7 linked regions of the Homo sapiens genome follow. The protein of the gene in region 2 purifies or fractionates together with the protein of the main gene of each other region. This does not show direct contact. Each region holds a gene or a part of one and is shown on either strand. Other genes may lie near its edges. The genes, in order: ACADSB, LYPLA1, MSRA, TXNDC12, MTHFD2, SUMF2 and MSRB2.

Region 1 (3,500 bases), on a different chromosome or scaffold from region 2:
TGATTTTGATTTCCTAAGCCAAATTGTTCATACCTGCTTGATATGGTTTGGCTGTGTCCCCACCCAAATCTCATCTTGAATTGTAGCTCCCATAATCCCCATGTGTCATGGGAGGGACCCAGTGGGAGGTAACTGAATCATGGGGGCGGGTTGTTCCTGTGTTGTTCTCGTGATAGTGAATAAGTCTCACAAGATCTGATCGTTTTATAAAGGGCAGTTCCCCTGCACTTCTCTCTTGCCTGCTGCTATGTAAGACGTGCCTTTGCTCCTCCCTCACCTTCCTCACCACAATTGTGGGGCCTCGTCAGCCACGTGGAACTGCGAATCCATTAAATCTCTTTTTCTTTATAAATTACCCAGTCTTGGGTATGCCTTTATTAGCAGTGTACCAATGGATTAGATTTTAAGTTGATCCCAATTTTATATCCCCAAGCCAAAACTTCTATACCAGAATCTGTCCAACCTCTGCTTGCTTTCTCCATAAATAATAGCTTCTGTTCTAGGTATTCTCCAAAACTGCTAAAAACGCAACCTTTCCCATCTACCAGTCTCTGATTCTTCATTCTAGTCTTTAGGAGTTCCTAACAATGCCTTGCCCTTTTAAGAATTATAGTGATTCCCTCAAAAGAGGGTTAAATAAGCCAAGACAAGACACAAGGCAAGGGAATCAACACAAAGGAAATGGGTTTGCCTGTAGTGTGACCTTGGCCAAGTCAACAATTTCTCTTTCCCAAATTACCAGTGGACAAAAATGAAACCAGACACTCACTTCTATTTTCAAAGAAATTTTAAAAGATAGGATTATTATGGAGCTAAAGTATTTTTTAATCATGTGTAAACCAAAAATAAGATTCTAAGGCCCCCCAAACCAGCTGAACAGACTTCCTCCCTAGCCAGGGGTCTTAAAATTTCACCTGAGAGACTGTTTCAGGCCATGATGGGAAGTGGGGGTCGAACATACCTCATTATACCTCACCAGCATGAACATCAACACAGAACTTTAGGCCTAATAAGAAGCATTTCAATCCATTCTCTCTGAAGTCGGCTACCTGGAGGCTTCATCTGCATGATTAAACTTTGGTCTCTACAACTTCTTATCACAACCCAGACATTCCTTTCTATTCACCCCAGGTTTTTAGCCCAACTCAACCAATTGTCAACCAGAAAATGTTTAAATTTACCTATAGCCTGGAAGCCACCCCCGACTTTCATTATGGGAGTTATTAAAAAATTATTTTAGGCCTATAGAGAGGAAAAGGTGTCCTTGGGAAGTTTTTGTTTCTTTTAAAGCAGCTCCAGGAACGTTTCTTGTCTAGCAGGAAAGCCCGGCTCTTCAAGCTGGGACAGCAAGCTTAGACATGCAAATGCCGGCCATTAGAAACTGTGTCCACCCGGTGAGGTGGCTCACACCTGTAATCCCAGCACTTAGGGAGGCCTAGGTGGATGGATCACGTGAGGTCAGGAGTTCCAGACCAGCCTGACCAAGATGGTAAAATCCTGTCTCTACTAAAAATACAAAAATTAGCCGGGCATGGTGGTAGGTGCCTATAATCCCAGCTGCTTGGGAGGCTGAGGCAGGAGAATCACTTGAACCCGGGAAGAGGAGGTTGCAGTGAGCTGAGATCACGCATTGCACTCCAGCCTAGGCAACAAGAATGAAACTCTGTCTCAAAAAAATAAATAAATAAATATAAGGTAAAGGAGTTGGGCTTGCCTTTATTGTGACCTTAGCCAAGTCAACAATTTCTCTTTCCCAAATTACCAGTGGACAAAAATGAAACAAGACACTCACTTCTATTTTCAAAGAAATTTTAAAAGATAGGACTATTATGGAGTTTAAATTTTTTTTTAATCACATAATTACTTGGGTCCAACAACTTAACAGGCATTGGGAATTTCTTCAACTCACCCTCTTTTTCAGGGAAGATAGTCAGAAGAAACACTTAAATAGATGCCAAAAGACCAGAGTTCCATATCAGGGGTTGCATATTCAACACTGGCTGGGGACAGGGGGTTACCAAATTGAGTGAAGGGAGCATGAACCACGTTCACAACCTCCTCAGTATGCATTCCACCAGCTCCATTAGCTGGCCCTGCCATGTCTTGCACTTCTCAAAACACACCGCTTCTGCTCTCACAGGTTTGTTTTTTTTATGTGACACAAATTCTGTATGTTTGCTTTTAAATATCCTTTTCCTTCTTTTGCTCCAATTCTGAATAAAACACATATGTCACAGAATTTCCTCTGATATCCTACTAAGTCTCCTTTTGCTTCTTTGCTTCTCAACATTTACCCAGGATGGTCTGAACTGTACCCCAAAGGCTGACTTGTCCACTCCTGTTTCTTCACTATCCTTCCGATGCCCCATACCCATTTATGGTTTTGGCTAGCATTTATAGCTCTTAAAGCAAACTAAATATTGCCTGAGAAGGACTCCGTATGTCTATATTTGAGTCCTTGTGGATGAACTGTAACCTAGCTTAATAGGTAGACAAGATTGAAAGCCTAACTTAGGAGTATGCGCCTGTAACAGTAGCTGCGTCTTGGGCAATCCCAGCAGCCATCCTTCAACCACTCATGGACTGCTGAGTGTTCTAACTGTGTTCAAATAAGACAATTGCAAATCTGTAACCAATCCAGCCACTGTGTACCTCACTTCCGATTTGTCACTTCCCTTCATTTGTCTATAAATTTGTTATGACCACAAGGCATCCCTGGAGTCTCTCCAAATCTGCTGTGGTTCTGGGGGCTGCCCAATTTGCTGCTCAATTAAACTCCTTTAAATTTAATTCAGATGAAGTTTTCCTTTTACCATAGCTTTAGCACTGGTCCACTTTCTAGACCCATTTCTGACCAGCTTCTAAGACACTTTCAGTTGTAAGTTTTATTAATACCTAAAACGTGTCTAAAACAGAATTACCTTTCTTCTGTCACCCTAAATTACTTTTTCTCCAGATGTCCCAATCTTTGCCTATCACTAAGCTATTTCATTTAGAAAATGTGTAGTCCATCTAATTCCTCCATTTCAAGATAATTCCCACATCTTCTCAAGTCTTCTTTTATTAACATGTCTTCCTTTCTGATCATCGGTGCTATCACCCTCATTGAGGGCCTTGTTACTCTAAAAGTGGACTTGTGAAATGGTCTAAGTGGGATGTGGCTTCAGAGTCTCACGTGATGAGTTCCTTTTGTGAGCTGCTGACTGTTTTATCTTGTAAACTCCTTTGCAAACAGCACCTTAAAATCTCAATGGCTGCTATTGAAATCTTTCAACAAAAATCTTTGAAACTGTAGATCAATTTCTATAGCCAACAAACTGAGTATGGCAAATAGTTTTAGAGAGAAAGTTCCCTACCAGGTTATAAGGAGAAAGGCCACCTTTCCCCTCCTTCATGGAGTACACTGTTACACAGGTCTACATCCGTGGTTCTCAGTCCAGTAATTTTGCCCCCACGGGACATTTGGCCATGGATGGAGACATTTTGGGTTGTCATAGCTC
Region 2 (3,500 bases):
ATTCCTGATCCCCACCATATGTTCACCCATGGATTTAGCACCCATTAATGATTATTGCCAGAATCTATTGTTGTGGTAGTTGCCGAATATCTTATGATATTTAAATATTTAAAGTTAAAATATGGTCTTTTAATTAAATTTCCTTTGTTCTGGCCGGGTGCAGTGGCTCATGCCTGTAATTCCAGCACTTTGGGAGGCTGAGGCAGGAGGATCATCTGAGGTCAGTAGTTCAGTACCAGCCTGGCCAACATGACGAAACCTCGTCTCTACTAAAAATTAAAAAACTAGCTGGACAGGATGGTGCATGCCTGTTGTCCCATCTACTTGGGAGCTGGAGGTTGCAGTGAGCCAAGATGGTGCCACTGTACTCCAGCCTAGGCGACAGTGAGACTCAGTCTCAAAAAAAAAAAAAATTCCTTTATTCTGGATTTATTATTTAGCAGTCTACTGTGGGGTAGAGCTTTCCTTTCTCCTTTATTTATTACTTATGTAGATACTCATTTGTTTCAAAATTTTAAATCAGTACAGACTCTTGGATTCCTATTGTATTCAGAGGATAACAATCAAGTTAGTTATTTATTTTGATGCTCAAATTGTCCTTTAGTTGGCCACAGTAACCCTTTCAAGCTGGTACTTGGTGTCTTTTGGACATATCCTCATTCTTATTTGATCACTTCCTCACTTTATGGTACAAGACTTTTTCTAGGATTGTCTTATATGTTTCCTGCTCTAGTCCTGGACTCAGCCATTTTTCCAAGAACCCTGGTTCCTTTTAGTAGACAGTGAGATCTGGATGCTATATGTGCTCCCAGATCTAGACCCTTGCAGTGGACAGAGCTAAGAATATATGGACATACATACATATGTACACACATATCAGTTTTAGTATTTATAAGTATTCAAAATCTTGAGTTTATAATGATTCCTCCAATTGCAGCCCAGCACCACAGGGTTTATTATAGCCTTCTCCCTTTCCATATTTGTAATTCCGTGAGGAACCTGACTTCTGTTCTTGGGGGGTTCTGGCCAACAGTGCAACTGTGGAGTGTGCCCCTCCAGTTGCACCAGCTCACAGCTATGCTTCATTCATGGGACCTCTCCCCATCTGCTGAATATCACACCTGAAAGCTCAGTTCCAATTAAGGGGAAACGAGGAGGAGGAAAGGCCTGGTGGAAAGCTTGGTTCTCTTCATGTGTCCCCCTCCCTGCTACTCCCCAGCCCCGATGTATTCCAGGAATTACTTATCTGTATTACCAGTCCCTGTGACATTTCCTAGACCAAGGAGATTATAAAAGTATAGAGAAGAATGTTTGAAAGATAAAATAAGTGGTTGACTGGATCAGATTTTACTGAGAGGTCAAACAAGGTGAGGATTTAAAATAAATTGGCAACATGGATATGTTTTGTGACCGTAATAAGTTTGCAAGTCTTCCTGTAATCAAGAACTATTAATAATAGAATTATAGAATGTGATTTGGAGATCATTTAATTACAAGGAATAGAAAACTCTTCAACTAGCTTAAACAAAAATTAGAATTTGTGGAAGGATAGAAGGGCAGCCCACTGGCATATAAAGTCCATGAAGGCAAAGGTTTCTTTAATAAACTTTCATTAAGATAAAATTCACATACCATAAAATATACCTCAGCACAGGGATTTTTTGTGTTTTGTTTAAATTAATACTGTATTCCCAGTGCTAGAATAGTATAGGACATGTAATAGCACTAAGTATTTGTTGGACAAATAAATGAATAAATAAAGAATTAAAGGGTGAGACATACGAGGAGCATCAATCACCACATGTATTAGTTTCCTAAGGCTGCCATTATAAATAACCACAAACTAGATGGATTAAAAACAACAGAAATTCATTCTCACAGTTAAACAGGCCAAAAGTCCAAAACCAAGCTGTCAACAGGGCCACATACATTCTCTTTAACGGAAGATCCGTCCTTGCCTGTTCCGTTTCTGATAACTCCCGGCTTTCCTTGGCCTCAGGCACCATACCCCCAACCTCTGCCTCTGTCTTCATGTGACCTTTGCTGTGTTTCTGTTCTCTCCTCCTCTTAGGAGGACACCAGTTATTGGATTTAGGGCTCACCCTAATCAAGTGTGATCTCAACTCTTAACTAAGGAAATCTGCAAAGAGCCTATTTTTAAATAAAGTCACATTCCGAGGTTTCAGGTGGATGTGAATTTGGGGGGAACACTGTTCAACTACACCATTATTCTCACTACCTTTCCCTGGTCTTATGGTCTCTCACTTGCTTCTTTCTGTAGATTTGCGTAATTCTCAGTGTGGACACACTCGTGTTATCCACAAGTGAACGATCCTAGCTCTGACTTATATCAACCCTACTTCTGGTGTTCAGTCAAGAATCTGATCTGTCTTAGGTCATTTTTTTTCTTGTCTAGTTAGTTGGTAAGACTGATTGGGACTGATAGGAGAGTTCATAAGAATAACGTGCTACATGAATGGGGTTGGGGATGAGTGGTGTTTCTTTTACAAACCCAGACAGAATCTCTGTTCTACACCCATATTACTACAGGATAATGAACAAATGGAAATAATATGTGTGCGTGCCACCACACAGGTCCTGATTTTGTTTTGTTTTGTTTTGTTTTTAAGTAGAGACAGGGACTCATTATGTTGCCTAGGCTGGTCTCAAACTCCTGAGCTCAAGCAGTCTGTCCACCTTGGCTTCCCAAAGTGCTGGCATTACAGGTGTGAGCCACTACACCCAGCCAGAATTCTTAAATCTTGAGTTTTTCATTGTCACTGAAAATTATCAAAAGAGTTGGCTACAGCTTGGCCATCCTTTTTATATTAATATGGTTGGAGTCAGAGTTTTATAACCTGTATAGACCTTCGAATCATCCAGTACAACTAGCTCCTGGTTATGGATGGGAAAACTGAGAACTAGAAAGGCATGATTCTCATACTATAGCATGCATCAAAATCACTTGAAAGACTTGATTCTTGGGCCCCACTGCCAGTTTCTGATTGAGTGGGTCTGGAATGAGACCAAGGAATTTGTCTGCATGCCTCCTCTTCTTCTTTCTTCTTTCTTCCTCCTCTTCCTTCTCCTTCTCCTCCTCTTCCTCCTTCTCTCTCTGTCTCCTCCTTCTCCTCCTCCTCCACCTTCTCTTCCCCCTCCTTCTCTTCCTTCTTTCTCCTTCTCCTCCTTCTCCTTCTCTTCCTTCTTTCTCCTTCTCCTCCTCCTCCTCCTTCTCTTCCGTCTTTCTCCTCCTCCTCCTCCCCCTGACTTCGACAGGGTTCTCCTCCGCCGCCGCCTCTGCCTCTTCCATCTCCTCTGCCGCCGCTGCCTCCCCCTCCCCCTCTTCCTTCTCCTTTTCCTCCTCCTCCTCCTTGCTTCGACAGGGTCTCTCACTCTGTTGCCCAGGCTGGAGTGCAGTGGCGTGAACACAGCTCACTGCAGCCTTGACCTCCTGGGTTCAGCCTCCCAAGTGACTGGAAGTACAGCTGCATGCCACCATG
Region 3 (4,148 bases), about 44 Mb from region 2:
AGGTTTGACTCTTTCCTTCTTGCAAGGTGGAAATCTTGGTCACAGTGTGTAAAAGGGTGGAATTGTCCTTAAGAATATAAAAATGGTAGGATGAACGCTAAGATGGTAATCCTTAACACCTCAAGTATTTGGTAATGGTACACACCTGATACTAGGCTTATCTAAACGCACTAAAGAAACAGGCCTTCTGCAGTCAAAAGGTGATGCTTTTGTCACGCAACTTTTGAGGGTCAGGGTACAAATAAGAACAGACATGGATGGAGGTAATATAGAGAAGGGAGGAGTTGTTAAACAGGATCCAAGTTGCAGTGGAGGTGAATTCCACATTCAGAACAATACTAAATCCTTAAGTTTCAAGTTTACAGCTACTGAAACCCACTGAAGAGGTAACACTGCCCATTTCTGGAGCCAGTCAGGGCTTTCAGCAACCTCTCAAGGCTCAGAAGTGGAGACTGGAACGTCCACAATCTAAATTTCACACACTTTTTGTGGAAAAAGTTACAATAGATGAACAATAAGGACATATGCATTGTAGGCTTGGCCCTACACCAAAAAAAAAAAAAAAAAGTTTACTGGCCCAGATACAGAGATGTGTTGGTGTACCAAAAACACTCACAGCTATATGGAGACAGCAGAGCCTGGAAAAGAACCAGGTCCTGAGGTTTTGCAGTTAAAAGTTATGATGGGGATAAGAAAAAAATTGTTGGCTCATTTCTGAAATGTTTGCTCATCTTTTACCAAAAATGTCATTTACATATTAGGAAACTGATTGGGAAGACTTTGGTTAAGATAAAGCCAAAGTAAATTTTGGTCCATCTTGACCTTGAACCAGTTTGGAAATCTGAACAAGAGTTTTTGGATTATTTGGGGTTTTTTTTTTTTTTTTTTTTTTTGGTGTATGGGAGGGCATAGCAAAGACACGGCAGTGTGTGAACGGGAAGTATAGCACAAGCTGAGGAAGTCTGGCATTTGAAAAGTATCGCCTTTAAACATGCACGTATAAATTCCTGCCTGTAAAAGAAAGAAAAAATTTTAAGATGCATTTATAAGTTTTAGATAATCTGGTTATATTTTATAAATCTATATATAAGTATAGATGTTTACTAATCTAGATTTGTTTCAAAACTCAATCTCTGCATTTGAATCAAAAATAAACTTTTACGGCTGAGTAGCAGGTGAAATGATGGGGAAACCAGGAAACAGAAACTGCTAATTCGATTAATAATAAGCCAGTCACACGATTTCTAAACTGCCTCTAATCCAAAAAACCTCTACCTTTTCTAATCTCATACTGATTATTCTACGAGATGACAAACTCTCAATATGACCTCCTCCTATCCTCAACAATTCTTGAAGGAAAAGAAAAAGAAACTTCTAAGGAAATTTTTTAAATGCTGAATTTCTCTGGCATTGAGCCATGTGTAGATTAAACATCACTTAATCCTCCAACAGCTCTAAGGCAGTGGTTTACAAGCTACAGCGTACATTACAATCACCTGGAGGACTTGTTTTAGAGATTGTTGGGCTCCACCCCCAGAGTCTCCGATTCAGTAATGGGGGAACGCCCACCCAGGTGGTGATGCTGCTGCTGCTGCGGCAGGTGGGGGCACTCTGAGAAGCGCTGCACTAAGGTAATATTAACGTGTGGCCCTCGTTCTGGGAAACGCGTGCTGTCTGCAGCAGAAATTGCCAAGATTTTGAAAACTTTTATAGCAGTTTACCATTACATGGCATCGAAGCACGTGAACATTTTTCTAGTATTTCACCCTTATTGTATTTTCCCAAAGTACTGATGTGAGAACGACTAGAAAGTTGTCCAAGTTTGTGGAGCATCGCTTTAAGCTGACCCAGCATACGGCAGCCCCTGCCCCTGGGGACAGCGGGGCCGACCTAGGGCACGAGGGGTGACTAGGGGTGACTCAGCCAGAACACTGGCCTGAGACGCAGTTCCACACTTAAGGTTTTCATCGTCTCGTCTCATTCCGGCATTTCCCGGGACAACACTCGCACCAGCCCCGCTGCAGGTGCCCTGGGTCCCGGCGGCCGGCGCAGAGGAGACAAGAAAGGAGGGCGCAGGCACAGCGCCGCGGGCGCCCGCGAGCAAGGCCAGACCCCAGCGGCACATTTCCTGCCCAAAACTTGGGGCCGCGACGGTATGCACTCCGGGTAAGTGAGACCGATGCACTAGATTCCTTCAGAATGCCCAGTTTGGCTCCAGAAGATGACGAGCCAAACAAAGACAAAGGGACGTCAGTGGACCCCAGCGTCTCCCCGGCCACTGCCGGCGCCCCTTCGCGCCTGCGCAGACCCCCACCCCGCGACCCGCCCGAGGCCAGCCCACGGCTTCCTTCCGGGCAGCGGGCGCGCTGCCGCCGGGCAAAGGCGCGCATGCGCAGCGTCGCCGCCCGCGCCTTCCGTGTGGCCAGTGCTTACCCGCTACAGGGGTCTGTTCCTTCCGGCCCGGCAAGGCCTCCTGGGGGCTGACGATGTTCGAGGCCGAGTTGCCCATCCTCGGGACGGGAAAGAGGCTGTGGAGGAGGAGGAGCTGGCAAGCCCTCCGGGTGGCCGAGAGCATGGGAGGGCGCCAGCCGAAGGGTGGTCCCGGGGGACGGCGCTACCGGCAGCGGAGCCGCAGCCGGAACGGCAGAGAGTGGGGTCCGCGGCCGGAACCGGGGGGCGGCAGGGGCGCGGGCGGGCGGGCGCGGGGCGCTGCTGGCGGGGCTGGAGGCCGCCCGTAATCGAGGTTGCCCAAACCCGGGGCCGTACCGGCTGTCACCGGGGGCGTGTTCCTTCCCTGGACAGGGGGTGTGGCCCGGCGAGTTCCTGAGGTTCTCTCGGGACGAAGTTCTCGGACAGAGAACAAGTGCGCTCCTGTCGTACGAAGTACGTGAAGCTGCAGAGGCCAAAAAACACGCCGAGCCCTTGGGGATGCGGTTTGATTTTAAAGTTGCTGCCGTGTCGCCCCGACTTCGCAGTTTAGCAGTGCCCAGTAAGATAGAAGAGGACCTGCCTTGCAGCCAGCTAGACTGTCAGTTTTTATTGGAGACATTGTCATGACGGCCATCAGAAGGGTTGCTATTCGTCCAAAGTGAAAACTAAGCACAGTTCTCAAAATGCGCGGAATAGGGAAGATGAATTCAATATTAAGTTATGTATTTACAAACATATTTAAGCCCATTTTGCAGCGGCCAAAATACGGGAGCAAGGCACCAACAGCACCATTAAGGCAGTGTAGGTGGACTTAATGGTGGTGTTGTATTATTCTTGTTTCTCAAATCATAGGAGATGACATTTGTTCCTGTGACATTCTCAAACTAAATGTAAAGTGGTTGGAGCGAGGTGAGTGACTTGGGAGTTCATCTGTGTGAGATTTTGGCTTAACACATGTTCTGCCAAAATGGGCAGGTCGTCTCAGATGAGGGAGGGAACTTCAGATTAGCACCCACAGAAAGGAGGCTTTCACCCAGCTTCTTGCATGGATTTAGTTACCACTTTGTTTTCATGTGGTCTGGACTGTAAGGAGGGCAGGAGGCTTAGCAGTGCTATAGTGTAGAATGAGGTGTGTTGCCAGGCATACAACACTAAAAAGGCTCTAGCTTTGATTTTGTAATTTGTATTTCCCCTGGACAAAATGATACCTAAACTGTTTGTTATTGCTATGAGGCTATACCAAGTCGGTTCCACAGGCCTTTCATGAAAACACCCCCAGGAGTCCCTTCTAGGCTTGCGAAGGCCTGGTCACTATTAAGGGTCTGAAAAAATAGTCATTCTGTCAAAGACAATATTTTGTGTTTTTCAGTTACTTCTTTTTGATACATACTGATTTGTCTGTGTTTTGTGGTTGATTGTATGAAGTTTCACATGCTAGAAATACTCTGCAACTAAGAGCTGAAGAATGTTTAGTGTGAAGAAATAACTTACTTGGCATGATGGCTCACTCCTGTAATCCCAACACTTTGAGAGGCTGAGGCAGGAGGATTGCTGGAGGCCAGGAGTTTGAGACGCCATCTTTACCAAAAAAAAAAAAAAAAAAGGTATTTAAGTAGTTGGGCATGGTGGTGTGGTAGCGCACACCTGTGGTCCCAACTACTTGGGAGGCTGCACCAGGAGGAACGCTGGAGCCAGAGAGGTAGAGGCTGCAGTGAGCT
Region 4 (3,500 bases), on a different chromosome or scaffold from region 2:
TACCTTAATCTGCATTAAACACCTGTTCAGGCAGATATCCTTTCTCTTCAATGATTTTCTTAACGGTGTCTGAGAATTCATCTGCTGCCTCTTGGTCAGCATAAGCTGCTTCTCCTGTATCTTGTTTTTTTTTTTTTTGAGACAGGGTCTCACTCTGTCACCCAGGCTGGAGTGCAGTGGGGGGATCTCGGCTCATGCAACCTCCGCCTCCCAGGCTCAAGCGATTCTCCTGCCTCAGCCTCCCAAGTAGCTGGGATTATAGGCATGGACCACTACCACCTAGCTAGTTTTTGTATTTTTTGTAGAGACGGGGTTTCACCATGTTGGCCAGGCTGGTCATAAACTCTTGACCTCAAATGATCCACCCGCCTTGGACTGCCAAAGTGCTGGGATTACGGGCAACACTGCGCCCAGCCTGTCTTGACATTTTTTAAGCCAAACCTCTTTCTAAAATCAGCAAACCATCATTTGTTGTCATTAAATACTCCAGCTTTAGATCCTTCACCTTCTTTTTGCTTTAAGTTGCCATATAATGACTTTGCTTTTTCTCAAATCATATTAGAGTCAATAGGTATGCCTTTTTATAGTACCCATGTAAAAGCTACATATTATGCACATAAAAAGGCATTTGGCAAAAAGTGCAAGGTTTTTGCACCTGTTGGCATAGCTACAGTGACAACTTCATGAATTTTCTTTTTTTTTTCTTTTTCTGTTTTTTTTTTTTTTTTACGCAATTGGTCCTTACGCTGGATTTATCTTTAAAAAAATTTTTTTTTGTAGAGACAGGGTCTTACTTTGTTGCCCAGGCTGGTCTCAATCTACTGGGCTCAATCAGTCCTCCTGCCTCAGACTCTCAAAATGGATTCATCTGGCCAGGCCAGAGCAAGACACCGTCTCAAAAAAAAAAAAAAAAAAAAGGGTTCATTTATCTTGAAACGACAAGCAACTACCTGTGTAGACCTCAGTCTACAGTACATATCAAGCAATTCAATTTTTTCTTGTAATGTCATGAGCATTCTCTGCTTCTTGGGAACACTTCCAGCATCACCAATGGCACCTTGTATGGGTTTCATGGTGTTATTCTAGGTTTATGATATTGTACTAAATACCAGGAAAAATATGCAAGAGTTGTAAGAGATTAATTTTTTTTTTTTTGAGACCAAGTCTCGCTCTGTCTCCCAGGCTGGAGTGCAATGGCGTGATCTTGGCTTACTGCAACTCCGTCTCCCAGGTTCAAGCGATTCTCCTGCCTCAGCCTCCCAAGTAGCTGGGATTACAGGCATGCGCCCACCATGCCCAGCTAAGTTTTTTGTATTTTTAGTAGAGACAGGGTTTCACCATGTTGGCTAGGCTGGTCTCGAACTCCTGACCTCAAGTGATCCACCCACCTCGGCCTCCTAAAGTGCTGGGATTACAGGTGTGAGCCACCGCGCCCAGCTGAGAAACTACGTTATACTGCGATACGCAATACACTGGAGAGACGTACTGCTCACTGAAGATGATTAATGTTGCACGGCATTTTAAGTGGATACTCACAATACTTGAGTTCACCTCCATAGCAACAGGAGGTGGCCACAAAATTATTAGTAATGTTATATACTACAGTTAATTTTTATGCAGTTATGATTTAATATGGCATCTTTACATTTGTTTACATTTCTCCCTTCTGCAAATGGCAGCATGTGTGGTCTATAGGTGTTTGTGTGCAGAAGTTTTTTATTTTTTTATTTTTATTTTTATTTTTTATTTTTGTTTTTTAAGACAGAGTCTCGCTTTGTCTCCCAGGCTGGAGTACAGTGGTGCAATCTCAGCGCACTGCAACCTCCACCTCCCGGGTTCAAGTGATTCTCTTGCTTCAGCCTCCCCTAGTAGCTGAGACTACAGGTGCACACCACCATGCCCAGGTAATTTTTGTATTTTTAGTAGAGACGGGGTTTTACCATGTTGGCCAGGGTGGTCTTGAACTCCCGACCTCAGGTAATCTGCCCGCCTCAGCCTCCCAAAGTGCTGAGATTACAAGCGTGAGCCACCATGCCTGGCCAGAAGCTTTTTAGACAGGGTCTCACTCTGTTTCCAGGCTGCAGTACAGTGGCATGGTCTTAGCTCACTGCAGCCTCAAACTCCCAGGCTCAATTGATCCTCCCACCTCAGCCCCCTCAAGTAACTGGTATTTTTTGTAGAGAAGGGGTTTCACCATGTTGCCCAGATTGGTCTCAACCTCCTGGGCTCAAGTGATCTGCCCGCCTCAACCTACCAAAGTGCTGGGATTACAGGCATGAGCCACCGCACCCAGCCAGTGTGCAGAAGTTTTGATAAATTTTAACTTGTAGATTTCTGTATGTTTTATGGTAGTAAATGATAATATAGACTAATACCTACATATATTTTTACACTTGTAACATACCAATTTTTTAAGTTTTTTGATATTTCTAGGCTATGCTGTTCATCTGCAAGTTTTTTGAAACTGCTTGAAATCTCCAAAACAGTTTCCAATGCATTTATTACTGAAAAAAATCCACATATAAGTGGACCTGTGCAGTTCAAACCCATGTTGTTTGGCCGGGCGTGGTGGCTCACATCTGTAATCCCAGCACTTTGGGAGGCCGAGGCAGGTGGATCGCCTGAGGTTGGGAGCTCAAGACCAGCCTGGCCAACATGGTGAAACCCCGTCTCTACTAAAAACTACAAAAATTAGCCGGCAATGGTGGCACATGCCTGTAATCTCAGCTACGTGGGAGGCTGAGGCTTGACAAGAATTGCTTGAACCTGGGAGGTGGAGGTTGCAATGAATGAAGATCGCACCACTGCACTCCCGCCTGGGTGACAAAGCAAGACTCTGTCTCAAAAAAGAAAAAAAAAGGCCGGGCGCGGTGGCTCACGCCTGTAATCCCAGCACTTTGGGAGGCCGAGGCGGGTGGATCATGAGATCAGGAGATTGAGACCATCCTGGCTAACACGGTGAAACCCCGTCTCTACTAAAAATACAAAAAAATTAGCCAGGCGTGGTGGCGGGTGCCTGTAGTCCCAGCTACTCGGGAGGCTGAGGCAGGAGAATGGCGTGAGCCCAGGAGGTGGAGCTTGCAGTGAGCCGAGATCGTGCCACTGCACTCCAGCCTGGGCGAGAGAGTGAGACTCCATCTCAAAAAGAAAAAAAAAAAAAGAAAAAAAACCCATGTTGTTCAAGGCTCAACTATAAATGTTAGCCATTATTATTGCTGTTGTTGTAATTAGGCAACTATTCAGTTCTTGCTCTGCCTTGGTATAGCCCTTCACCTGAAATTAACGTTAAGTTGATAGCTGAAAAGTGTTTTACCACCATAAATGACCTAAAACCATGTCTTGTACCTGGCAGCTGCTTCTTTCTTCCCATCTTCCAGTGTCCTCCAATGAATATGATCTCCAAAACCTGGAAGGAAAGAACTTTATAAGCATTCACATAATGAACAAAGGGCACAGTCCCAAGAAGGAAGTGTGCATGTTCACAAGATACCCACTAAGAA
Region 5 (3,500 bases), on a different chromosome or scaffold from region 2:
TTGTCTGGAGAAACAGCATTGCAGATCCTTCTCTCATCAATATGCTCTGAAAAAGAAATTGGCACAGTTGCCTTAAATCACCACCGCATAGTCAGCACTGCCTGACTCCAGCTTATCTGCTTCGCAAGGAAATCTATTCTTCTACAGCTTGCCTCTGAGATGTACTTCATCTGCATGGAAGGAACTCGCATAAGCAAAGCCAAACACCAATAGCAAAGCCAATATCGTCTATCACAGCTGCTTCCCTCCACTGTCCTTTGTATCAAGACCACAATACTAAATCAAGGCGTAATTGGTATTCTGAGTTGGTCTGTCCCATTTCTAATAAAATATTCACTCTTTTGAGTTTATTTTGCCTTTAAGCCAAATCCACATGAAGAACCAGGTGTATAAAGTAACAAGGCCTTTTTACCCCTCAGAAACCATTTTAGGTAGGGCATGGTAGTTCATGCCTGTAATCCCAGCACTTTGGGAAGCACAGAGTCCAAGACCAGCCCAGGCAACACAGACAGACTTTCATTTCTAGGAAAAATGTAAAAATTAGCTGGGCATGGTGGACATGCCTATAGTCCTAGCTATTTGGGAGGCTAAGGCAGGAGGATCCCTTGAACCCAGGAGCTTGAGCATGCAATGAGCTATGATTGTACCATTGCACTCTAGCCTGGGTGACAGAGTGAGACAAGGAAAGGAGAGGGAGGAGGAGGGGGATGGGGAGGGAGAGAGAGAGGGAGGGAGAGGGAAAGGAGCAGAAGCAGCAGCAATCATGTTAAATGGAGTCCAAAACTCACCTGGAAGAGGCAACTGAACAAGGAGGCCATCTACATTATCATCATTATTCAGTTTATTGATTAAATTCAACAATTCTTCCTCTGAAATTGAAGCTGGTTTCATAATTGTCTCACTGTTGATTCCTATTATAAGAAATTTTGAGGTTAAAAAAATTTTTGAGGCATTTAATGAGCACTGCTATGTTGCCTACCATACTTGGCTACCATACGGGTTTTGTATCATCACACTCATCCCTAAAAGCTGAAGTAGCTCAAGGAACCTAAAAAAGTAACTTCACAAATATATACACCAGAGAATACTAGCTTAACACATCCTGTATACCTCATTCTATGCAATCTTCATTAACCTTATTTTACAGACAGACTGAGGCTCAGAGAGGTTTAAAAATAAGCGAGCTAGGCCAGGCACAGTAGCTCACGCCTGTAATCCCAGCACTTTGGGAGGCCAAGGCCAGCGGATCACGAGGTCAGGAGATGGAGACCATCCTGGCTAACACGGTGAAAACCCGTCTCTACTAAAAATACAAAAAATTAGCCAGGCTTGGTGGAACGCGCCTGTAGTCCCAGCTACTTGGGAGGCTGAGGCAGGAGAATCGCTTGAACCTGGGAGGCGGGGGTTGCAGTGAGCTGAGATCGCACCACTGCATTCCAGCCTGCGCAACAGAGCGAGACTCCGTCTCTAAATAAATAAATAAATAAATAAGCGAGCTAATAATACAGCCAGTCTTTCTGGTTCCAAAATCCATGTTCTTTTTTTCTGCACCACACTACCTCCCAATGTCTTAAAATGCCATGGCTTGGCCAGGCACAGTGGCTCACGCCTGTAATCCCAGCACTTTGGGAGGCTGAGGCAGGCGCAGATCACCTGAGGCAGGTGGATCACCTAAGGTCGGGAGTTCGACACCAGCCTGACCAACATGGAGAAACCCCATCTCTACTAAAAATACAAAATTCGCCAGGCATGGTGGCCCATGCCTATAATCCCAGCTACTCGGTAGGCTGAGGCAGGAGAATTACTTGAACCCGGGAGGCGGAGGTTGCGGAGAGCCGAGATCACGCCGTTGCACTCCAGCCTGGGCAACAAGAGCGAAATGCCGTCTCAAAAAACAAAACAAAATGCCATGGCTTGCCATTATCTAGAGGTTTCTAAAGGCTTTCAATTAAAAGAGCAGGAGGCCTCACTCCTCAATAATAAAGAACAGAGAAAACCACAGGCTTACAGGCCAGTAACCCCACCCAGCCACGCGAGTGGTTTCACAGCCCTTCGAAGGAAAGGCCACCTGCTGCTCAGACCACAGGCCCACAGATGGGCAGGCAGAGGCATATCTGAGCCTGCCCACCCACCTCTTGTCCACAGAGACACAGTAATCTGTGGTACCGTGAGACCTAGAACACAAACCCCATCATCCAGACCTGAACTGCTTCTAAACTGCATGTTTGGCTTTAGAACCAATCGGTGAAGAACTTGAAAGCTATTTCCCAGAAGTCAGAGTCATTTCCTTCAAATCTACGACTGTGTTCCTGACCTCATCACTGAGGTCACCTAATACTGTATTGCTCAATCATGCCCCCTAAGCCTCTAAGGCTTTAAGCTGCAAACACTCAAACACCTCCACTGGAGACCCATTATTGCTCAAGGAAAGCAAATGTAAAATGCATTCAGGGTCACCTATCAAATATAAAGACTAAGAACAGAATGTAGCTTATATTCTTTCCAGAAGCCACAGAGAATACCAACCAGTATCTCCTGTCCTACTGTATAAACCCCGAAAGATATAGTCTGATTTCCTATGACAAAGTTTTGGGATACAGTTCAATCACATTAGCCTCCTCTGCTTGGGTTTCCTAATCAGAAAAAAGAAATCATAAATTAGAATGGACTTTGCCTCATATAAACCTCAACTGAACCGCAGTCGAGGTCTCAGAAGGACACATACCCACAACTGCAGCTGCCCTGGTTTTGTTGAGGACATAGGAGTGACTTGCAGGATTCTCGCCAACCAGGATCACACTCAGGTGTGGCCGTTTGTTGCCTGAGGCCACCCACTCTTCTACCTCCTGCCGCACTTCCTGCTTGATCTGCTGGGCCAGTTTCCTTCCAGAAATGACAACAGCTTCATTTCTGCAGAAGGCAACAGAGTCACAAAACCAAATAACTTGAATTTTTATAAAAACTAAAACTCTGCCAGGTGTAGTGGCTTATGCCTGTAATCCCAGCACTTCGGGAGGCCGGGGCAGGAGGATGGCTTGAGCCCAGGAGTTTGAGACTGGCCTGGGCAACATGGCAAAACCCTGTCTCTGCTAAATAAATAAATAAATGAATGAATATATCCAGCTACATATGGAGGGGGATAAAGTTGATAGAAATCATTATTATCATTAATTTGAAGCTCAGGGAGTTTAAGTGACTGACAGCGCTTGGTCAAGCTGAGTCTCACATCAGTCTGGGCTCTTAACTGCTACACCACCCTGCGCCCTGATCATTACTAAGTGTTTTACAGTTTTAATTTGCAATTGTTTGACCCCTCACCATGAGGTTAAATAGTTTTTCTTATCTGCTTATATGCCATTTGTAGTTCGTGTTTTGTCCCTGTTGTTAGCAGCCAGGCATGTATTTCAAATCATTTCCCAGTCAACTGACTTCATTTTTATGGTGGTTTAAATCGATAAATTATATTCTGTAGTTGAATAAACAAACAATATAGGCCGGGC
Region 6 (3,442 bases), on a different chromosome or scaffold from region 2:
TTCCTGCTGGCCTTCTCAGGACAGTGCTTTTTTATTTGCTTATTTTAGTTTTATTTTTTATTCACTTTTTTTTTTTTGAGGCAGGGTCTCGTTCTGTCGCCAAGGCTAGAGTACAGTGGTAGCTCACTGCAACCTCCGCCTCCTGGGTTCAAGTGATTCTCCTGCCCAAGCCCCAAGCAGCTGGGATTACAGGTGCATGCCACCATGCCCAGCTCATCTTTTATTTTTTGTAGAAGCAGGGTTTCACCATATTGGCCAGGCTGGTCTTGAACTCCTGACCTCAGGTGATCCACCCGCCTCGGCCTCCCAAAGTGCTGGGATTACAGGCGTGAGCCACTGCACCCAGCCCTACAACTCTTTAATAGAAAGTACTTACGCTGGCTGGGCACGGTGGCTCATGCCTGTAATCCCAGCACTTTAGGAGGCCAAGGCGGGTGGATCACCTGAGGTCAGGAGTTTGAGACCAGCCTGGCCAACATGGCAAAACCCCATCTCTACTAAAAATACAAAAAAATTAGCTGGGCATGGTGGCAGGCACCTGTAATCCCAACTACTTGGGAGACTGGGGCAGGAGAATCGCTTGAACCTGGGAGGCGGAGGTTGCAGTGAGCCAAGATCGCACCACTGCACTCCAGCGTGGGCAACAGAGAGAGACTCTGTCTCAAAAAAAAAAAAAAAAAGAAAGCACTTATGACCCATTGTCTTTTGCTTTACCAGCTTATGAGTCATCAGTTGCATTAGAACCCAAGCCTTCTGGATGCCGCGGCCTAACAACACAGTGCCCAGCCTCCAGCAGGTCTCTGTCAATGCTTGGTGAAAGGAGGAACGTAGGTCTTACCTGCCACAGGTTGGTGCGGTTTGGCTGGAACCAGTTCCCCCATGGGTAAACTTGACCTGCGAGGAGAGCAAGGAGGCAGCAGAGGAGGGGGAGGTGAAGAATTAGGGAAGGAAAAAAGAACACAGAAAGAGTGAGGGAATCAAAAGGAAGTTAGAGGGTGATGAGAAAAAAGAGTGAATGACCTGCTTTTATTTGCCATGCCCATCCTCTCCACTCGCTGAACTGCATTAGAGGGCCCTGGCCTCCTCATGTGCTCCAGGGCAATGTAATCCTAAGCATGGTTCTGGGACCTGAGCCAGTTTATAAAGCATCTGTTATCAGTTCATGTTGAGAAAAGTACAGAAATCGAGAAACTTGAAATTGGACTTAGATTGCATAAATGAATGAGCCAGAGGCAACCTCACAGGTCATATTAAAAACTTCGATCACTGGCTGGTCGCGGTGGCTCACACTTGTAATCCCAGCACTTTGGGAGACCGAGGCAGATGGATCACGAGGTCAGGAGTTCGAGACCAGCCTGGCCAACACAGTGAAATCCTGTCTCTACTAAAAATACAAAAATTATGCAGGGCATGGTGGCTCACGCCTGTAATCCCAGCACTTTGGGAGGCCAAGGCAGACGGATCAGGAGGTCAGGAGATCGAGATCATCCTGGCTAACACGGTGAAACCCCGTCTCTACTAAAAATACAAAAAATTAGCCGGGCGAGGTGGCGGGCGCCTGTAGTCCCAGCTACTTGGGAGGCTGAGGCAGGAGAATGGCGTGAACCCGGGAGGCGGAGCTTGCAGTGAGCCGCGATCGCGCCACCATACTCCAGCCTGGGCGACACAGCGACACTCTGTCTCAAAAAAAAAAAAAAAATAGCCGGGCATGGTGGCAGGTGCCTGTAATCCCAGGTACTAGGGAGGCTGAGGCAGGAGAATCCCTTGAACCCGGGAGGCGGAGGTTGCAGGGAGCTGAGATCGTGCCACTGTACTCCAGCCTTGGGCGACAGAGCTAGACTGTCTCAAAACAAAAAACAAAAAACAAAAAACTTTGATCACTGATGTACCTGGTGTTCACTGAAAGATTGTGTAGAGGGGTTTAATGTGCGGAGTTGCTTTTTGCTGTCCTAACTTTTTGTGTAATTAGGATTGCAGAATGACAAATGACCGAGTTAGGAGCAAACAGTGATTCTTTTTTTTTTTTTTTGAGACGGAGTCTTACTCTGTCGCCCAGGCTGGAGTGCAGTGGCGTGATCTCGGCTCACTGCAACCTCCACCTGCCAGGTTCACGCCATTCCCCTGCCTCAGCCTCCCAAGTAGCTGGGACTACAGGCGCCCGCCACCAAGCCCAGCTAATTTTTTTTTGTATTTTTAGTAGAGACGGGGTTTCACTGTGTTAGCCAGGATGGTCTCAACCTCCTGACCTCGTGATCCACCCACCTCGGCCTCCCAAAGTGCTTTGATTACAGGCGTGAGCCACTGCGCCCGGCCGCAAACAGTGACTCTTAACATTAATCTCTGTACCCCAGAGGCAGAAGTGTGTAGTCTTGGTAATTCTTTTTCCTTATGCTATGTTGCTCTAGTTATATTTATTGAAATGTAACATGTCTGTGGAATTTCCAATAAAATATTTTATGTCTGTTCTTTCAATTTTCCAGTTATTAATTTTTATGGTATTTTATATCAGTCTGAGATGGACTAGAAATTAAAAAAAAAAAAAAACACTGGTCCTCCACCACAGATAGCTTAAGAAGCACTGCTCTAGGGAACACAGACCCTTCCTGCCCCATCCCCCCGCTTTTTCTTTTGAGACAGGGTCTTGTTCTGTCACTCAGGCCAGACAGCAGTGGTGCGATCATAGCTCGCCGCAGCTTTGAACTCCTAGGCTCAAAGGATCTTCCCACCTCAGCCTCCTGAGTAGCTGGGACTACAGGCACATGCCACCAGGCCCAGCTCATTTTTGTATTTTTCGGAGAGACAGGGTCTCCCTATATTGCCCAGGCTAGTCTTTTACTCCTGGCCTCAAGCGATCCTCCTGCCCCAGCCTCCCAAAGTGTTGGGATTACAGGCATAAGCCACTGCGCCCAGCCCCTTTCCACCCTTTAAAGCCCCTCATGCTGGGCAGGATGGGGAGAAGAATAAAGGAAAATCGCCTTATCATCTGGATACCCTTCAAGCCCCCTCGGGCGGCAAACTCCCACTCTTCCTCCGTGGGCAGTCGTTTTCCCCGCCAAGCACAGTAGGCACGGGCGTCATTCCAGCTCACGTGTAACACTGGGTGCTCCAGTCTCTCTCGGATGCCAGAGCCAGGACCTGCAGGCTGACAGCCAGGATTAAGTGAGACAGGCTTCCGGGAGCGCATTAAGTCGGAGGCAGGCTAGGTTTAGGGCGCCCGCGTTCAGCTTTTACCACTAGATGGAGCAAGAGAGCTGGAAGAGAGCCGGGTGAGTGACCAGTGGTCGGAGTCAGAAAAAAGAGACTACAGGAGGCTGAAGGGAGAAATGGATGGGTAACAGGAAACAGGATTCGGGCAGGTGAAACAGGCCTGCTGAGCGCTTTCCCTGATATTCCCCTATCCTTCTTTGAAACTCAGTGTTCCTGGATGTACGAGGGGTAGAGA
Region 7 (3,500 bases), on a different chromosome or scaffold from region 2:
CCCCATGTGTTCTGAAGACAAAAGAAAGTACCCCTATAAAAGGACACCAGATTTGCCAAGAACAAGAGAGCTCTTTGTGGCATTGGGGGCAGCATCAGGGAAAGTAAAACAAAATGAGAAACCTCACCTGCTTGCAGACAACCTCTGTGCGAGCTGATCCTAACGAGGTATCCAGACGTCTCAGGATCCCTGTGTGGCTTTCATCAGAGCCAGACGTACCATGAGCCTCGGAAAACGAAGGCCACCCAGTGCCAGAGCAGTACTTTTTCTCAGAACTGTGGAAGACATAAACGATACTACAGCTGCTAATGACACTGTCATTAACATGCCAAGAGGTGCCCCGATGTGTTGTTCCAGGCAGCAGGATCTGTTCCCACTCTCCTCTGCCAGATCCCATGCCCAGTTATTCGACAGTCAGTCCCCCCGGAATCGTCCTCACTGCACCTTCACTATCGAAGCCATTGCCTCTCGAAGTGGAAGGACTTCTTGATCCTTTGATGCTAAAGACTTCTTTCTGGATATCCAACAAGGATCTAAAAACACATGGTGTTTTGTGAACTGTGTTGCATATTAGGTAACACAGATCAAACCCATGTGTTGAAAATGTCAAAAGGGGAGAAATCAAAACGAAATACTAATGCTCGGAGGAAGTCATCATCATCTTAGAGCAGCGCAGAAGTGTAAGGTCTGATGAGAAAGTCATGCTTGGCAACAGGAATTTCAGGTTATCTCAACACAGACGCCTGACCAGGGATTCAAAAGCTGCCTCTGGCCACTTCTTAGCTGTGTGAAACCACAGCTCTTGAAGCCTCAGTTTGCTCACCTAGCAAATGGGAATAATATCTACCCTACAGGGCTGTTTTGAGGATTTGAGGGGAAACTGAAGTGTGACATAAAGCTTAGCACGGTGCTGGGCACATGGTAAGTTCCCTGAATGCTTGCTGTGATGGTGATGATTAGTATTAATTAATACGCCTGGGTACCTGGCATCAATCACTGCAGTGAAACCTAACCCTCCAGAAGTCTCCCAGGGACTCATGATGCTGGCACAAGGAGAAGGACAGCAGGCAAATCCACTCACCAAAGACCCACCCTCTAAGTGCTCTCATGGATAAGCTCCCTTAAATGGCACTGGGAAAATAGACTTCAAAAATTGCTGTGGCAAGGAAATGGCTCTCTCTATCTAAGGAAGAAAGAGAAGAACTGAATGTTAGACCCAGCCAAAAAAAAAAAAAAAAAAACAAAAAACTAATCTAAGAAGAAAAAGTAGCAAAGAATCAAATCCCTAGACTATGAACACAGAAGGAAGCCTAGCTGGCAGCACAAACTCCCACAGAAACAATTGTGTAATGCAGCAATTCTCAAACATTTTGGTCTCGGCACCCCTCATGTCCCCTCTGTGTCCCCAAAATTAATAGGGATTGCTGAGAGCTTTTGTCTGTGAGTTACGTATGTCAACATTTAACAAATTATACATTATAAATGAGAATTTAAAAATATGTGTGCATTAATTTTTTTTTAATATAGGTTGAGTGCCCCTTATCTGAAATGCTTAGGACCAGAAGTGTTTCGGATTTCAGATCTTTTTGAATTTTGCATTTTACTTGATGGCTAAGCATCCTTAATCTGCAATACTCCAGTGAGCATTTCCTTTGACTAGCATGTTGGTTCTCAAAAAGTTTCGAATTTTGCTGGCGTGGTGGCCCACGCCTATAATCCCAGCTTTTTAGGAGGTGGAAGCGGGTGGATCACTTGAGCTCAGGAGTTCGAGACCAGCCTGGCCAACATGGTGAAACCCCCTCTCTACTAAAAATAGAAAAACTAGCTGGGCATGGTGGTGCATGCCTGTAGTCCTAGCTACTTGGGAGGCTGAGGCAGGAGAATAACTTGACCCCAGGAAGCAGTGGTTGCAGTGAGTGGAGATCAGTCAACAGAGCGAGACTCTGTCTCAAAAAATAAAAAAGTTTCAGATTTGGGTGCATTTCAGATTTCGAATTTTCAGAGTAGAGATGCTCAACCTGAAATAAATTTATTATATGTTAACATAACATATATTTAAGGCAAATAATTATACTTTTCAAAATGAAACAAACATTTCATGAGAAGAGTTGCACTGTTTTACAATTTTGCAAGGCTCTTTAACATCCGGCTTAAAAAAAAGACAACTGAATCTTCATATGTGCCTCTGAATTCAGTCTGTTGCTATGTTGTTTTGATTGGAGTATAAGAGGATGTGGCCTCAAGTGGTCTCAAGTGTGGTTGGAAAAGCCCCTAGAAAGGTCCCCCCCAGGAATCTCTGGGGTCCTCAGACCAGGCTTTAAGAACCACAGGTATAGCCATTAGAGGAAGGGCTTTGACTTCTGAAAGATTTGTGTGTGAATCTGGGATCTGTCTGTTACATCTGTATCACCTTGGCAAGTCATTTAATTTTTTGAAGCCTCAGCATCCTAGTCTATAGATAAGTATAAACTAAAAATAAAGTTCTAAGCCACCCACTGACTGAATAGAGCCCTTCTTGGCCAAGAGGACTCCAGAAAAACCTTTAAATCGAGTTTCCGGTCATGATGGGACAGGAGGTCAGACACACCTCATTATACCCTCTCCCTTTTGTGGTTTAGACACAACAAATGACCAGCATTAATGTTTAAATAGAGATCATAAGACTGGCAGAACAGCCTCTTTGTGGCAATAATATACCAAATTATAAACAGGACCTAAGGCCATGCCAGGCGAGGGTGAAGTCATGCACCCCTACACTTAAAGAATCAACTCTAACTGCCACAGGGGTTTTCTTCTTCTCTAGCAGCTAAACAATCACTGGCCTTGAGATAAGCAGTGTTGAAGCAATTGCAGCTCATCTACCATCAGACACTGACTAGCTGAGACCCTCTGTTCCACCAGCCGTAACTACAGCTTTGATTGCACAAGAGACTGATTTTAGTAACTTTCTCCTGATTAAAAGACCATGAAGTGGTTCTGGATGGTTTACAGAGGCTGTGCACTTGTGGGCCTTCATATCCTGAAAGACCTTTTGATGTATAGGATCTAATTATAATACATTTAAATGTTAAGTTTCTACCCCCAAATAAACATAGGTCATATGTTACATGCATGTTTGTTCAATATGTGTATGTCAGGACCATCTTCACAAATTTTCATAGCCCCTTCTGTGATCTGTTAAATAGGTATATTTAGCCAACCCTCTCAGCATAAAGCTCCTACCCCAGCTGCTCCCCCTTCCAAGTGCCTGCATCTGCTCTTGGCTGGGAGCTCGCTTCCCAGCCTGTAGGATGGCCACCTTGAAGGCTGTAACCCTTTAGAAGAAATAAAGTCTCCTTTTCTAAATTTATAGATTGTATGATTGTTTTAAGCTAACAATAGCAATGGCATTATCACCTCACTTTCTGTGTGTGTGCTTAGCATAGTACCTGACACATGGCACTTGAGTTGGTAGCTATTTTTTAATATTTTTTTATTATTAATACCAGAAATCTATGGAA

The links.
Region 1: the proteins of LYPLA1 (region 2) and ACADSB fractionate together in Homo sapiens (co-fractionation; one large-scale study listed by BioGRID). This does not show direct contact.
Region 3: the proteins of LYPLA1 (region 2) and MSRA fractionate together in Homo sapiens (co-fractionation; one large-scale study listed by BioGRID). This does not show direct contact.
Region 4: the proteins of LYPLA1 (region 2) and TXNDC12 fractionate together in Homo sapiens (co-fractionation; one large-scale study listed by BioGRID). This does not show direct contact.
Region 5: the proteins of LYPLA1 (region 2) and MTHFD2 fractionate together in Homo sapiens (co-fractionation; one large-scale study listed by BioGRID). This does not show direct contact.
Region 6: the proteins of LYPLA1 (region 2) and SUMF2 fractionate together in Homo sapiens (co-fractionation; one large-scale study listed by BioGRID). This does not show direct contact.
Region 7: the proteins of LYPLA1 (region 2) and MSRB2 fractionate together in Homo sapiens (co-fractionation; one large-scale study listed by BioGRID). This does not show direct contact.

The regions. Positions count from the first base shown.
Region 1 is NC_000010.11:123,015,506-123,019,005, reverse strand, and holds part of ACADSB (short/branched chain specific acyl-CoA dehydrogenase, mitochondrial isoform 1 precursor), read right to left. Parts: intron 1-3,500. UniProt on the Homo sapiens protein: Short and branched chain specific acyl-CoA dehydrogenase that catalyzes the removal of one hydrogen from C-2 and C-3 of the fatty acyl-CoA thioester, resulting in the formation of trans-2-enoyl-CoA.
Region 2 is NC_000008.11:54,091,948-54,095,447, reverse strand, and holds part of LYPLA1 (acyl-protein thioesterase 1), read left to right. Parts: intron 1-3,500. UniProt on the Homo sapiens protein: Acts as an acyl-protein thioesterase. Hydrolyzes fatty acids from S-acylated cysteine residues in proteins such as trimeric G alpha proteins or HRAS.
Region 3 is NC_000008.11:10,052,944-10,057,091, reverse strand, and holds the start of MSRA (mitochondrial peptide methionine sulfoxide reductase isoform a precursor), read right to left. Parts: upstream 2,801-4,148; 5' UTR 2,576-2,800; coding exon 2,434-2,575; intron 1-2,433. UniProt on the Homo sapiens protein: Has an important function as a repair enzyme for proteins that have been inactivated by oxidation. Catalyzes the reversible oxidation-reduction of methionine sulfoxide in proteins to methionine.
Region 4 is NC_000001.11:52,038,192-52,041,691, forward strand, and holds part of TXNDC12 (thioredoxin domain-containing protein 12 precursor), read right to left. Parts: intron 3,407-3,500; coding exon 3,346-3,406; intron 1-3,345. UniProt on the Homo sapiens protein: Protein-disulfide reductase of the endoplasmic reticulum that promotes disulfide bond formation in client proteins through its thiol-disulfide oxidase activity.
Region 5 is NC_000002.12:74,205,115-74,208,614, reverse strand, and holds part of MTHFD2 (bifunctional methylenetetrahydrofolate dehydrogenase/cyclohydrolase, mitochondrial isoform A precursor), read right to left. Parts: intron 2,911-3,500; coding exon 2,726-2,910; intron 912-2,725; coding exon 789-911; intron 47-788; coding exon 1-46. UniProt on the Homo sapiens protein: Although its dehydrogenase activity is NAD-specific, it can also utilize NADP at a reduced efficiency.
Region 6 is NC_000007.14:56,074,286-56,077,727, reverse strand, and holds part of SUMF2 (inactive C-alpha-formylglycine-generating enzyme 2 isoform b precursor), read right to left. Parts: intron 3,143-3,442; coding exon 2,992-3,142; intron 895-2,991; coding exon 839-894; intron 1-838. UniProt on the Homo sapiens protein: Lacks formylglycine generating activity and is unable to convert newly synthesized inactive sulfatases to their active form. Inhibits the activation of sulfatases by SUMF1.
Region 7 is NC_000010.11:23,116,079-23,119,578, reverse strand, and holds part of MSRB2 (methionine-R-sulfoxide reductase B2, mitochondrial precursor), read right to left. Parts: intron 534-3,500; coding exon of another isoform or gene 404-533; exon of another isoform or gene 276-403; coding exon 128-275; intron 1-127. UniProt on the Homo sapiens protein: Methionine-sulfoxide reductase that specifically reduces methionine (R)-sulfoxide back to methionine.